Linked DNA regions of Homo sapiens. The protein of the gene in region 1 purifies or fractionates together with the protein of each later gene. This does not show direct contact. Each region holds a gene or a part of one and is shown in the gene's direction. Other genes may lie near its edges. The genes, in order: FN3KRP, PIGR and LACRT.

The links.
Region 2: the proteins of FN3KRP (region 1) and PIGR purify together in Homo sapiens (affinity purification with mass spectrometry, with the first as the bait; one large-scale study listed by BioGRID). This does not show direct contact.
Region 3: the proteins of FN3KRP (region 1) and LACRT purify together in Homo sapiens (affinity purification with mass spectrometry; 3 studies listed by BioGRID and IntAct, with this or other methods). This does not show direct contact.

The regions. Positions count from the first base shown.
Region 1 is NC_000017.11:82,719,618-82,723,262, forward strand, and holds part of FN3KRP (ketosamine-3-kinase), read left to right. Parts: intron 1-654; coding exon 655-746; intron 747-3,186; coding exon 3,187-3,269; intron 3,270-3,645.
Region 2 is NC_000001.11:206,943,648-206,948,056, reverse strand, and holds the start of PIGR (polymeric immunoglobulin receptor precursor), read left to right. Parts: upstream 1-1,590; 5' UTR 1,591-1,721; exon of another isoform or gene 1,722-1,789; intron 1,790-4,409.
Region 3 is NC_000012.12:54,631,990-54,636,206, reverse strand, and holds the start of LACRT (extracellular glycoprotein lacritin precursor), read left to right. Parts: upstream 1-1,311; 5' UTR 1,312-1,365; coding exon 1,366-1,423; intron 1,424-2,973; coding exon 2,974-3,027; intron 3,028-3,825; coding exon 3,826-3,966; intron 3,967-4,217. UniProt on the Homo sapiens protein: Modulates secretion by lacrimal acinar cells.

The DNA.
Region 1 (3,645 bases):
GGTGGCAGGCGCCTCTAATTCCAGCTACTCGGGAGGCTGAGGCAGGAGAATCACTTGAACGCAGGAGGCAGAGGTTGCAGTGAGCTGAGATCGCACCACTGCACTCTAGCCTGGGCAGTAGAGCGAGACTCAGTCTCAAAAAAGAGGAAAAAAAAACCACTGCAAACTTGGATGAGGCTGGGAAAGATCGTCAAATAATCAACACCTTTATCCCCCTCTTGCTTCACCAGAACCTACTTTCTGTCCTCAAAATGTCCGACCTACTAGCCGGCTGTGGTGGCTCACGCCTCTAATCCCGGCACTTTGGGAGGCCAAGGTGGGCGGATGACTTGAGGTCAGAGTTTGAGACCAGTCTGGCCAACACAGTGAAACCCTGCCTCTACTAAAAATACAAAAAAATTAGCCAGGCATGGTGGCGGGCACCAGTAATCCCAGCTACTCGGGAGGCTGAGGCAGGAGAATCGCTTGAACCTGGGAGGCGGAGCTTGCAGTGAGCCGAGATCGTGCCACTGCCCTCCAGCCTGGGTGACAGAGCGAGACTCCATCTCAAAAAAATAAAAAAGTTTGACCCTCTTTATGTGCCCTGAGACTGAGCAGTGGGTGTGTTGCCATTCTGTGTGTCATCTGTTTAGTTGCTGTCGTTTGATTTGACAGTCATGCTGCAAAGCTTGGAGCCCAGCTGGCCGATTTACACCTTGATAACAAGAAGCTTGGAGAGATGCGCCTGAAGGAGGCGGGCACAGTGGGTATGGCACTGCGCGGGCCACGGGTGCTCCCGCCTAGAGGAGGACGTTCAGCCGGTGTGGGCTCAGAGCGGGGGCCGTGCAGCAGCCGTGGGAGGGTCGGACGTGGGCTGATGGCAGAGCAAGGGAATGTCGGCCTTGAGCCGCATCTCACGGTGCACTGAACACAGTGACTGTGATGCGTCTGTTGTGTCCTAAATGCATTTGAAAGATGAAAACATTTGCTGGACACAAGACACCCCTAGTGTTACAGTTACTTTTACCTCTCGTTCCCCAGAAGAGTGTAAGCAGAGGCTCTCTGGCTGTCTGTAAAAGGCAAGACCTTTAACCCAGGGTCTGTTCCTGTAAAACAGTCATACTTGAGGCTCAGAATTACAGCCATCATGTCTGACCTTTCCAGAGCATAACGCGCTGTCAGGATCGAGGGAATTTTCCGGTATTTTAATCTGCTGACATTTGGAATCCGTGTGCAGCCCACATGGTAAATGTGGGGAGATTTGCTGATGATCGGAACAGATCACCAGGGGCCTGCTGTAGGAGACGGAGACATGCTGTTAGTCTGTTCTGTGAGGGTCCATGACGGATCCACCCAGGCGGCCTGTGTGGTGAGGATCCACTGAGAGGCCTCCCAGGTCGCCTGTCCTGTCTCTTCCAGTCTTAACGGAGTTTAGTCCATTGGGATTTTCCTTGAATTAGGGAGACTGCAGAGGAGTGAGATTCTTTCTTTCTTTCTTTCTTTTTTTTGAGACGGAGTTTCACTCTTGTCCCCCAGGCTGGAGGGCAGTGGTGCAATCTTGGCTCACCGTGACCTCTGCCTCCTGGGTTCAAGCGATTTTCCTGCCTCAGCCTCCTGAGTAGCTGGGATTACAGGTGCATGCCACTGTGCCCACCTAATTTTTGTATTTTTAGTAGAGACGGGGTTTCACCATGTAGGCCAGGCTGGTCTCAATCTCCTGACCTCAGGTGATCCACCCACCTCAGCCTCCCAAAGTGCTGGGATTACAGGCGTGAGCCACTGCACCCTGCCTGAGATTATTTCAAAGCACAATAGTTTATCTGACACACATGGCACCAGGTTTGCCACTGAGAGCCATCCTTTCTGATGGATTGGGGGCAGATTCTTTTTCCTCTTTATTTATTTATTTTTATTTTATTTTTTTGAGAAGGAGTCTTGCTTTGTTCCCCAGGCTGGAGTGCAGTGGCATGATCTCTGCTCACTGCAAGCTCCGCCTCCCGGGTCCACGCCATTCTCCTGCCTCAGCCTCCTAAGTAGCTGGGACTACAGGCGCCTGCCACCACGCCTGGCTAATTTTTTGTATTTTTAGTAGAGACAGGGTTTCACCGTGTTAGCCGGGATGGTCTCGACTTCCTGACCTCGTGATCCACCTGCCTCGGCCTCCCAAAGTGCTGGGATTACAGGCATGAGCTACTGGGCCTGGCCTGTTTTTTACTTTTTATGTTTTTTATGTTTTGTTTTGTTTTGTTTTTTTTGAAATGGAGTTTTGCTCTTGTTGCCCAGGCTGGAGTGCAGTGGCGCGATCTCAGCTCACCGCAACCTCCGCCTCCTGGGTTCAAGTGATTCTCCTGCCTCAGCCTTCTGAGTAGCTGGGATTACAGGCATGCGCCACCATGCCCAGCTAATTTTGTATTTGTAGTAGAGATGGGGTTTCTCCATGTTGGTCAGGCTGGTCTCAAATTCCCGACCTCAGGTGATCCACCTGCCTTGGCCTCCCAAAGTGCTGGGATTACAGGCATGAACCACTGTGCCCGGCCATTTTTATGGTTTTTTTTGAGACGGAGTTTCACTCTCGTTGCCCAGGCTGGAGTGCAATGGAGCGATCTCGGCTCACTGCAACCTCCGCCTCCCGGGTTCAAGTGATTCTCCTGCCTCAACCTCCCGAGTAGCTGGGATTATAGGCGCCTGCCACCATGCCTAGCTAATTTTTATATGTTCAGTAGAGACAGGGTTTCACCACGTTGGGCAGGCTGGTCTCGAACTGCTGACCTCCGGTGATCCGCCCACCTCAGCCTCCCAAAGTGCCTTTCCTCTTTAAGAACATCCTCCCCTTTGTTTCCTGACACAGTGTGGTCTTCCCCCACACCCCCGCGTGTTGGGATGTGAGACAGGTCCCCTGAGAGGTGCCCGCAGGCTGCCTGTCCTGTGTGTGTCCTCTGGTGCCCCTGCTCGGGAGCAGCTAGTGTCTTTGATGCTGACGTCTGCTGGAGGCCACAGGCTCCTAGTGTTTTTGATGCTGACATCTGCTGGAGCAGGCTCTGTTAGGGGTGTTGTGTGAGCTGGTGGAGACCCAGGCCCTGTTTGTCTCTGGCAGGGGCATAAGCTGGTAGGAGCTCGCTGAGGTCGTGTCTGAAGGTGACTCAGTTTCGAGAGTGGGCGCTGGGATCCCTTGGAACTAATTTCCTTTCTTTTACTTTTGCTTGCAAGGGAGAGGAGGTGGGCAGGAGGAACGGCCCTTTGTGGCCCGGTTTGGATTTGACGTGGTGACGTGCTGTGGATACCTCCCCCAGGTGAGTGCACGGCGTTTGCTTCTATTTCACAATCAGGTCAGCTGTTCAGACACACGGGTTGGGGGGACACACCCCCCTCCTTTTTTTGTGAGCTTCAGTAAAAGTATTTGCACCATTTTTTCTTTGCTGATGTTTGAGAGGTTGACGTAAGATTGACCCACCTAATATGCTAGGTAAGCATGAAGAAACTGAGGAGGACCAGCAAGTTAGGAGCTGGATTTCAAGGTGGGTAAAAATGAGGGAATTTAACAAATGTTTTAGGTATACTAAACTCTCAAAGAGGGTGGAATGACAAGGGTTTGTCACTTTTGGTTGTGTGATTTTATGGTGGCTTCCCTCCGCATTTCCACCTGGGGAGTTCTGCTTGACGCCCAGC
Region 2 (4,409 bases), on another chromosome or scaffold:
AAGGAAGGGAACTCCATAATGAGGCTAAATTTTAAATCTGGAGTGAAGTGACTGAGAGATCACTGAATTGGGCTGAGCTTGCCTAGAAGTGACTAGGTAACTTGTTTTCTTTTATCAGTCAGATTATGGGTTTAGGGTTTGAAATTAAGCTACATCTGGAAGCCATCATCCTCATCAAACTAACACAGGAACAGAAAACCAAACACCACATGTTCTCACTCATAAATGGGAGCTGAACAATGAGAACACACGGACACAGGGAGGGGAACATTACACATCCGGGCCTGTTGGGGGGGGTGGGGGGAGGGAGAGCATTAGAACTAATAGCTAATGCATGTGGGGCTTAATACCTAGGTGGTGGGTTGACGGGTGCAGGAAACCATCATGGCACACGTTTACCTGTGTCACAAACCTGCACGTTCTGCACATGTAATCCTGGAACCTAAAACAAAATAAAAAAAGAAAATCTAAGTTTGCAAACCACAAAAAAAGAGAGAAATTAAGCTACATAAAGAAATTATGGGGTTTTTTTGCTTGCCATTGAAATCTGTGATTGTGTGTTAACACCCACAAGTGAGCCAGTGGTTAGCTAAAATAAGACCCAGGGCTCTGGCTGCCTTGTGTTTCTCCAGGGCTCTATTTCTCTATTTTTCCTTCCCCTTCTGGTGTTTGGCCTATAGGACTCTGTAGGGAGAGCCTGGGTCAGCCCTGCACAGGTAGGATGGGCAGCATTTCTGTGGGGGTTTGCAGTGAGGGGTCGGGGGGCCATACACGTGTGTGTTGGGGAGTGGGCTTCACTTTTGTCACAGGACTGCCACGATCATTTGGGGAACACCTGGGAGTCCCAACCAGGTCATGTTTTGGCATGGACTAACAGATAGGGAAGGAGGTGCTACTTCAGCTCAGCAGGTCAGCACCGTCCTTGCTATGGAGCCGAGCCCGGGTCCTAACAAGACTCTGAGGTCAGCCATGTTCAGGGGAGCCCAGAAGCAGCGAGTCTTTCATGACTCTGGGGAGTGAAACAGGAAGGGCCACAGTCCTGCCAGTTCCTGGAGCTCTGGGACTGGTAAAAGGGGCTTGGCAGGAGGTGTATAAGGGGCATTTTTGTCCAGGCTAAGTAACCTAGGGAGTCGGAGGGGATTCCAGAGCAACTGGGGATATGAGACCAAGGACTACGACAGCCACTCCTGCCACCTGTGCCCCATCAGATGATGTCAACTTCAAATCAAGCATTGGGCCAGGTATTTTAGAGCTAATACCGGGCTATATCCTCTACCTGTAGATTTGGTATTACCATCCCTCTTTTCCAGATGAAAAGAAATAGGAAGGTGACTTGCCAAAGGTCTTGCAGCTAGAAAGCGACAGAACAGCATCTTCACGCTTGACATTCTGTCCCTCATCCTGAAGCTGCAACGATGGAGGATTCCCAAGTAACAGAGTCTCCCCAAGGTCAAAGGAAACCAAATGGAGCCAGCCAGGAAGGCCAAAATGAAAGGAAAGCAAGGGATCTGTGAGAGTCACATGACCCTGGCTGGCCACGGTGCCTGTGGGAGAGTGGCCCTTTAAGAGCCCAGGTGTGGGTCAAACACTGAGCAGAGTTTCAGTTTTGGCAGCAGCGTCCAGTGCCCTGCCAGTAGCTCCTAGAGAGGCAGGGGTTACCAACTGGCCAGCAGGCTGTGTCCCTGAAGTCAGATCAACGGGAGAGAAGGAAGTGGCTAAAAGTAAGTGTTACTGCTCTGGGATCCCCAGACGGGATGCTATCTGGAAAGGGCTCGGGACGATGGCTCAGGTAACCCCCTCCATTCCCAACTCCCAGTCTCCTAGATAGTGGGGTGACAAGGACAAGGAGGCAGACTGTGTGACTGTGTGTGGCTGGGGAGTAAGCGTGCATATCGCAGTGGGACGAGTAGGGATGCACGTGTGTGGAAGCCCCCCATCCTTTTCTGAGAAATATCAGCAGGTGGGAAGGGACCTCTGTGGTCAGCATATGTAATTCTACTCTTTCAGCTTGGTCTGTGCCTGGATTTCCTAACTCCTCATAGTTGATTAACTGTGTGGCCTTAGACAAGCCACCTAACCTCTCTGATCCTCAGTTTCTTAATCTGTAAAACAAAGATAGAAATAACACCTATCATTCAGGGTCAATGTGGGTTCAAATGAGAAAACACAGGTGAAATAGCTTTGTAACCTCTAGAATGAAATAGGAATTGTTTCATATTTTTCAGTTTAGTTTAATTAATCAAGGATTTATTGAACACCAACAGACCTGGAATTAGATAGTGCGCATAAAGTATGGCACCTAGCAAGTCCTCTTCCATTCTTTGAGGTTTCCCACTTGTGGCTTTCTGGCAAAGGCATGTTCAGCTCCTTTTTTCTGGGCTTCCAAGAACCTCTGAAATCCTTTGCAATTCCACCTCGCTTTGCTCTAGCAGATTCCTGCCATGGGAGACATAAATGTGTGTCATCGCATCATCCTGCCCTTCCTAGAGGTAGAAAAAAAGAGGTCCTCACGGGATCACTGAGTGAGGTGGAGCTGAGCCCCACAGGCAGCATGATCAACTCCTGCTGTTCCTCCTGGCTCTGCAGCCAGCAGATCTCAGACATGGGCTTCCCCTCCCTTTGCCCATCCTGACAGCAGCCCAAGCCAGCAGTGGGACCGTCCGGCACAAGGGCAGCAGCGGGTCAAGCTCCATCCCTGACCCCCAGTTCCCTTTGTGCAATTGCCACAGTGCCTGGGGCCATTGAAGCTGCTCCTATTTTGTGCCATCACTTTCCCCCTTCACTAGGGGAATTATAGATCCTTTAACATCTGGAGAGGAGATGCCAATTTCAGGGGTTTAGGTAGAAGGCAGCTGTCTGGTGCCTGGACATAGGTCTTCCCAGAGCCAGATCTGGAATTCTCTCTCCATCCTTGTCCCGCCCCTGGATGTGCTAAAGTAGCAGAAAGAACACTGAGCCAGGAGTCAGGAAAGCAACTCTCTCTGCTTATCTCCTAGTGCCGCTAGACCTCTGTGGCTTTAGGTGATAAAAAATGGGGTCACACAGGCTTCCATTTAGTAAACCCACTTGCCCTGGGCTTTCACACCTTCGTCTCATTCTCCCTTGATACCAACGAGGAGGTAGGCAGGGTTGGTTTTGTGATGTCATTCCCTAGTTGAGGAAACCAAGACACCGTGAGTCTATGTGAGTGGTGTGAAGTCACCAGCAAGTTTGAACGATGAGGTTTTGGTACAGCCATTTTGATATGGTCATGAGGACATTTTGATGTCACCTAAAAAGCAAACTATCCAACTTAAAAAAAAATACCTATGCATTGTGCTCAGCAGAGACCTTCATCTATGTCTTGCCCTCTCTCTGGAGGGGCTGGGGCTGGAGTCCCAATGTCACTGGCATCGACACAGTATGGTGGAGTGGAAAGAGGCTTTGGCGTCAACATGCCTGGTTATACCCATGGTTATGTAACATATCCTACACATGGTAGGTGCTAAATAAATAGCAGCTAATATTTTCCAGGAAGAAATTTCTCTGTTGGCACCTACCTCTGGGTCCAGGTGTCTCTTCATTTTTTAATTTTTTATTTTTTTGAGATGGAATCTTGCCCTGTCACCCAGGCTGGAATGCAGTGGCGTGATCTTGGCTTACTGCAACCTCCACCTCCTGGGTTCCAGCGATTCTCCTACCTCAGCCTCCTGAGTAGCTGGGATTACAGACCCATGCCACCACACCCAGCTAACTTTTGCACTTTTAGTACAGATGGGGTTTTACCATGTTGGCCAGGCTGGTCTTGAACTCCTGACCTCATGATCCACCCACCTCAGCCTCCCAAGGTGCTGGGATTACAGGCGTGAGCCACTACGCCCGGCCCCAGGTGTCTCCTTATAAGAACTGCCTTTTCCGTGAAAGGCAGAGAGGAAAGAACTGAACAAATTCTCAGTTCGCTAAGATTGAATATCCTGCTTCTTCCTCTCTCCACTGCTTCCTCTCAATAGGAAGACCCTCTGAGGTAAAGCAGAGTGGCTAAGGGCCTATGCTCTTGATCTAGAATCCCATCTAAGTCACTTACCAACTGTGCAACCTTGGGCAAATGTCTCACCTCTCTGTGCCTCAATTATCTCACTCATGAAATGGGGTTGCCCATTTTGTCCCATCTCCTATGGTGGCTGTAAAAATGGAACACATTAACACATGTAAAGCACCTGGAAAGGACTCAGCGTACGTTCTTCTAGCCTAGCCCATAGTGCTTGTCTCCTCTCTTATCCACATGAGTCCAACCTAAGTAGCTCACTCTCCATCTCTCTATCTTCAAAGGATGTCCAGCAAGCAGACTTCTACTCTCATACCAAGTCCAGGGGACCTTTCTTCCTCTGAAAAAGAGGGAAACCTGAGATTAGATGGACAAAGGTTTGGAC
Region 3 (4,217 bases), on another chromosome or scaffold:
AAACCCTGGCACCCAAAACACCCTCATGTTGAAAACTCTTCAATACCCCCTTCTCACACTCATCTTCAGAGCTACCATGAGGCAGAGAAGCCTCCGGAATCAGCCCACATGGGGCTGGGTGAATGCCAACACCAAGCAAGGGGAAAGTCACAAATTGACATCCAGCACCTTATTCTCCACCCTTCAGCCCCTCAACTGACTCCTGCTCCACGGCCCGTTCTATTAATATCTAGCATTTAGCACCAGCCTGGACAAAAACCTACTTGGAAAGATGGTACAAGAACCCCACACAACTCCATAGAACTTCGCTGTCTAAAAAAATGCTTTGCCGTATATTATCCCACTTAATCTCCACCACTATGCTGTACATAGGAGCCACAACTCCTAGACAACAAATAAAAATCCTATCACTTTTCAAATCCTAACATTTTCATATGACAAAGCCAGAACTCAAAATCCAGACCTCTAGAGTCCCAGATCAGGAAAGGAAGAAACGCCAAGTCAAAGAGAAGCTTCTTTAGAATAATCTGCTTTTCTGGATTATTCACACCATGGGTCAGCTCCCCACTTGAAGTCAGAACCAAGCTCCAATTTCAGTGAACCACCATCATGCTTTGACCAGGAGATTCTCTCAGAAATGTGGGGTCCCATTGAGTAGGCCTGAAGACAGAGATTGACAGGCCTATGTGAGCCTGGAGGAGTTCTTTTTAGGGGCTGGATAATGTCAAGAACAGAGAACAACTCCAGAGAAGGCACACACGCCTTCAAACCCATCCCCTCATGGGGAGAAAGCAGCCAGGAACTCAGGCCTCAAGTGTTCTAGGTGTGGTCTCCCAAGGAAACGGGCTCACTTAGTTTGGGGAAACCTTCAAACCCTGCACTGAGTCCTATGTAGACTGGGACAGAAGGTGGACAATGTAATCCCCTGAGCCCTCAACCTCCTCCTGGAGAGATGACAAGATTAAGATTTCTCTACCAGAACCCTCAACAGACACATCCCAGAATCTCCCCAAGTGAAATGTGCTCTACCTACCGTCCCTGAGAGCCCAGGGGTGTGAACCCAGAGGGCAGGTGTGGTGGGGAAGGGAGGAGGGAGAAAGAAAAGGGATGGCTGGGAGTTAGAGAAAGGCTCCTATCCAGGACCTGCCTGCAAGGATCCCAGGTATCAGCCAGCCCAACCTAGCCCTTGTTGACTTAGCAGGTGACAGTTTGGGGAAGAAGGGGAGGAGGATGCGGAAGTCACACCTCTCCAGGCTTGGTTCCCATTGGCCCTTGATATCCTTAAAAGGGCCCAGCAATTTCAGCATCCTTATTCCCCAGACCTTCTGCAGATTCTGTGGTTATACTCACTCCTCATCCCAAAGAATGAAATTTACCACTCTCCTCTTCTTGGCAGCTGTAGCAGGGGCCCTGGTCTATGCTGGTGAGTATGGCCTTTCCTCTGCGCCCCACAAGAGTCCTCCCAGTCCAAGGAGCCCCTCACTCCTGCCTTCACCCCTCTCCTCCTCTCTCAGTGCTATTCTGGTTTCCCTGCCTCTGCAAGTGACTCCTCTCCCAGTTCTCCACACGTGGCCTCTGCACCCCACTGGCCAGAGGAACCCAGAACTCTCTGGCCTCTGCCTGCCCTCCCAGCTCATCTCCTCACACACCATTGTTTACCCACTATGCCTCAGCTACACTGGCTTCTCTGGTGTCCCCTGCATGTAGTTGAGCAGGGTGTCCCCTACACGAGGGTGCCCAGGCAAGGAGTGGTAGAAGCTAAAATCTGGCCGACACTCTACTTGCCAAGCAGTGAGCCTGGCCCCTGGCTGTGTCTCTTAGGAGGAAGGGATGCCTTTTTTTTTTTTTTTTTTTTGAGACCGAGTCTCCCTCTGTTGCCCAGGCTGGAGTGCAGTGGCACGATCTCTGCTCACTGCAACATCCACCTCCTGGGTTCCAGCGATTATCTTGCCTCAGCCTCCTGGGTAGCTGGGACTACAGGCTCATGCCACCTTGCCCAGCTAATTTTGTATTTTTAGTAGAGACGGTGTTTCACCATGTTGGCCAGGTTGGTCTCGAACTCCTGACCTCAGGTGATCCGACTGCCTTGGCCTCCCAAAGTGTTGGAATTACAGGCGTGAGCCACCGTGCCCTGCTGGGATGCCTTTTTTGATCCACAGAAGCACTATTTGGGCCATGATGATCCTGCTGTTCCTTGAACATCAGGATCTTCCTTCTTGTCCTTTCCTCGTCTAGAATGCTTTCCCTCTCCCTGGCCCCTTCCCCCAACCAACTCTAATGTCACCTGGCCAATGATTTTTCATCTAGAAAATCTCAGTTTACATATAATTCCCCAAAAAGGCCTTCCATGCACATGCGGAACAAATCAGATCCATGTGCCCTTCTCGCACCAGGCTGCACGTTCCCTTCCAGCACTGTCACACCAGCCATTAAATAATTTCGTAAAAGGACAGATGTAAGCTCTGTCAGGGCAGGGGTCTTGTCTGCCCTCTTCAGCACTGCACCTCCATCTCTTGGCACAGAGCTTTGCATAAATGTTGTGTTGAAAGAATAAAGGGAATCAAGGCTGGGGTCTCAATCCTGCAAATCGCTCAAATATGGCCCCATAACCCCCACATACTGTCCTCCTCCACCACAGAGGAGGTTGAGCCCCTCTGACCATGGCCAGCTCCATGACAGACACCTCAGGGAAGCCTACCAAGCCAGGGGCCAGTCAGGAGGAAGGCACTGTTCCAAGAGACATTACACTTCTCAGAGGGGAAGTTATTTCAAAAGCCACAGGAGTTAAACATCAGAGAGTGCCCCAGTAGACCCGCTGATATGGTGGAAGGGCATGTCCAACCCAAAGGGAAATTGATCCCCTTCTATCCATGAGCATTCCCAGGAGATAAGCTTTGGGAATGGGAGGGGAGGGTGGCTCGAGTAGGTCCGGTTCGGTCCTTGCTCTCATCTGGCATGTTTCCCCCATTGCAGAAGATGCCTCCTCTGACTCGACGGGTGCTGATCCTGCCCAGGAAGCTGGGACCTGTGAGTCCTCCTCTCCCTGCTGCCCTAGCCCTCGTTGGGAAGGTTTAACAGTTAGGGATGTGAGTGGTGGCTGGGAGAAGAAGCCAGTGGGAGGAGATCTGGATTCTGTGCTTGGTGGTAATGGGGAGGGGCAGGTAATATAATAAAGAAGGTGGCATGGGTTGAAATGGTACAAGGCTAAGGACAAAAGAGGATGACCCAGAGAGGCAAGGACAATAGGGAGCATGGGGAAAAGGTTATTGTGAATAAAAGGGAGAGAAACATGAGGTTAAGTGGTAAGGGCAATGTCTCACATGGCATTAATACCTTCACCTGCAAACACCTCCCATTACTCCCAATTCCTTAGCAAGATAACCATTATCTGGCCTCTAACCTCATTTTCCAACCCCATTTTCCATGACTCTCTTTTATGTCGCACCCACATCAGCTAAATTGAACTTGTTTCCATTCCCCACACATGCCTTCGCCTGACCTCTTACTCACTGCCTGCCCCCAGGGAAGCCCCTTTGGTACATCCTCTCCTGCTAACATCCTGCCTTCAAGATCCAGCTTCTCTATGAAGTGCTCCCCGATTCTCACCATCCCCTAGTCCAAATCCTTCCCCAACCCTGCCCGCTGCATTCCAAGAGACACACAGCATGCAGAAATGCTATCTCCCTTAAGGGGGCAGCGTTTAAGCCATATCACTTCTGTATCCTGGCACCCAGCACACATTAGGTATCCTGGGGCCCTGCAACCCATTCCAAAAGAAACAAACACTTTCACTTTGCTAAAATCCATCAATTTGTGCATTCACAGCTAAGCCTAATGAAGAGATCTCAGGTCCAGCAGAACCAGCTTCACCCCCAGAGACAACCACAACAGCCCAGGAGACTTCGGCGGCAGCAGTTCAGGGGACAGCCAAGGTCACCTCAAGCAGGCAGGAACTAAACCCCCTGAGTAAGTCTCTGTCTCTATGCCAGATCAACAACCTAGAAAAGTCTCTGGCTGCAGGCCCACATCACACCTCCACGCACAGAGATAAGCCTGGTGAGAAGCAGGTAGACTCAAACAGCTGAACACAAAGGCACAAATGGGATTGTGCATTGCACCCACACACAACGTTTTCACAATAGTAGATGTTGCAGCCTGCACAATACATGGTTTCTGTCCTGGCTCACACAACTTCCTATGAGAGAAGTGCTGGAGCC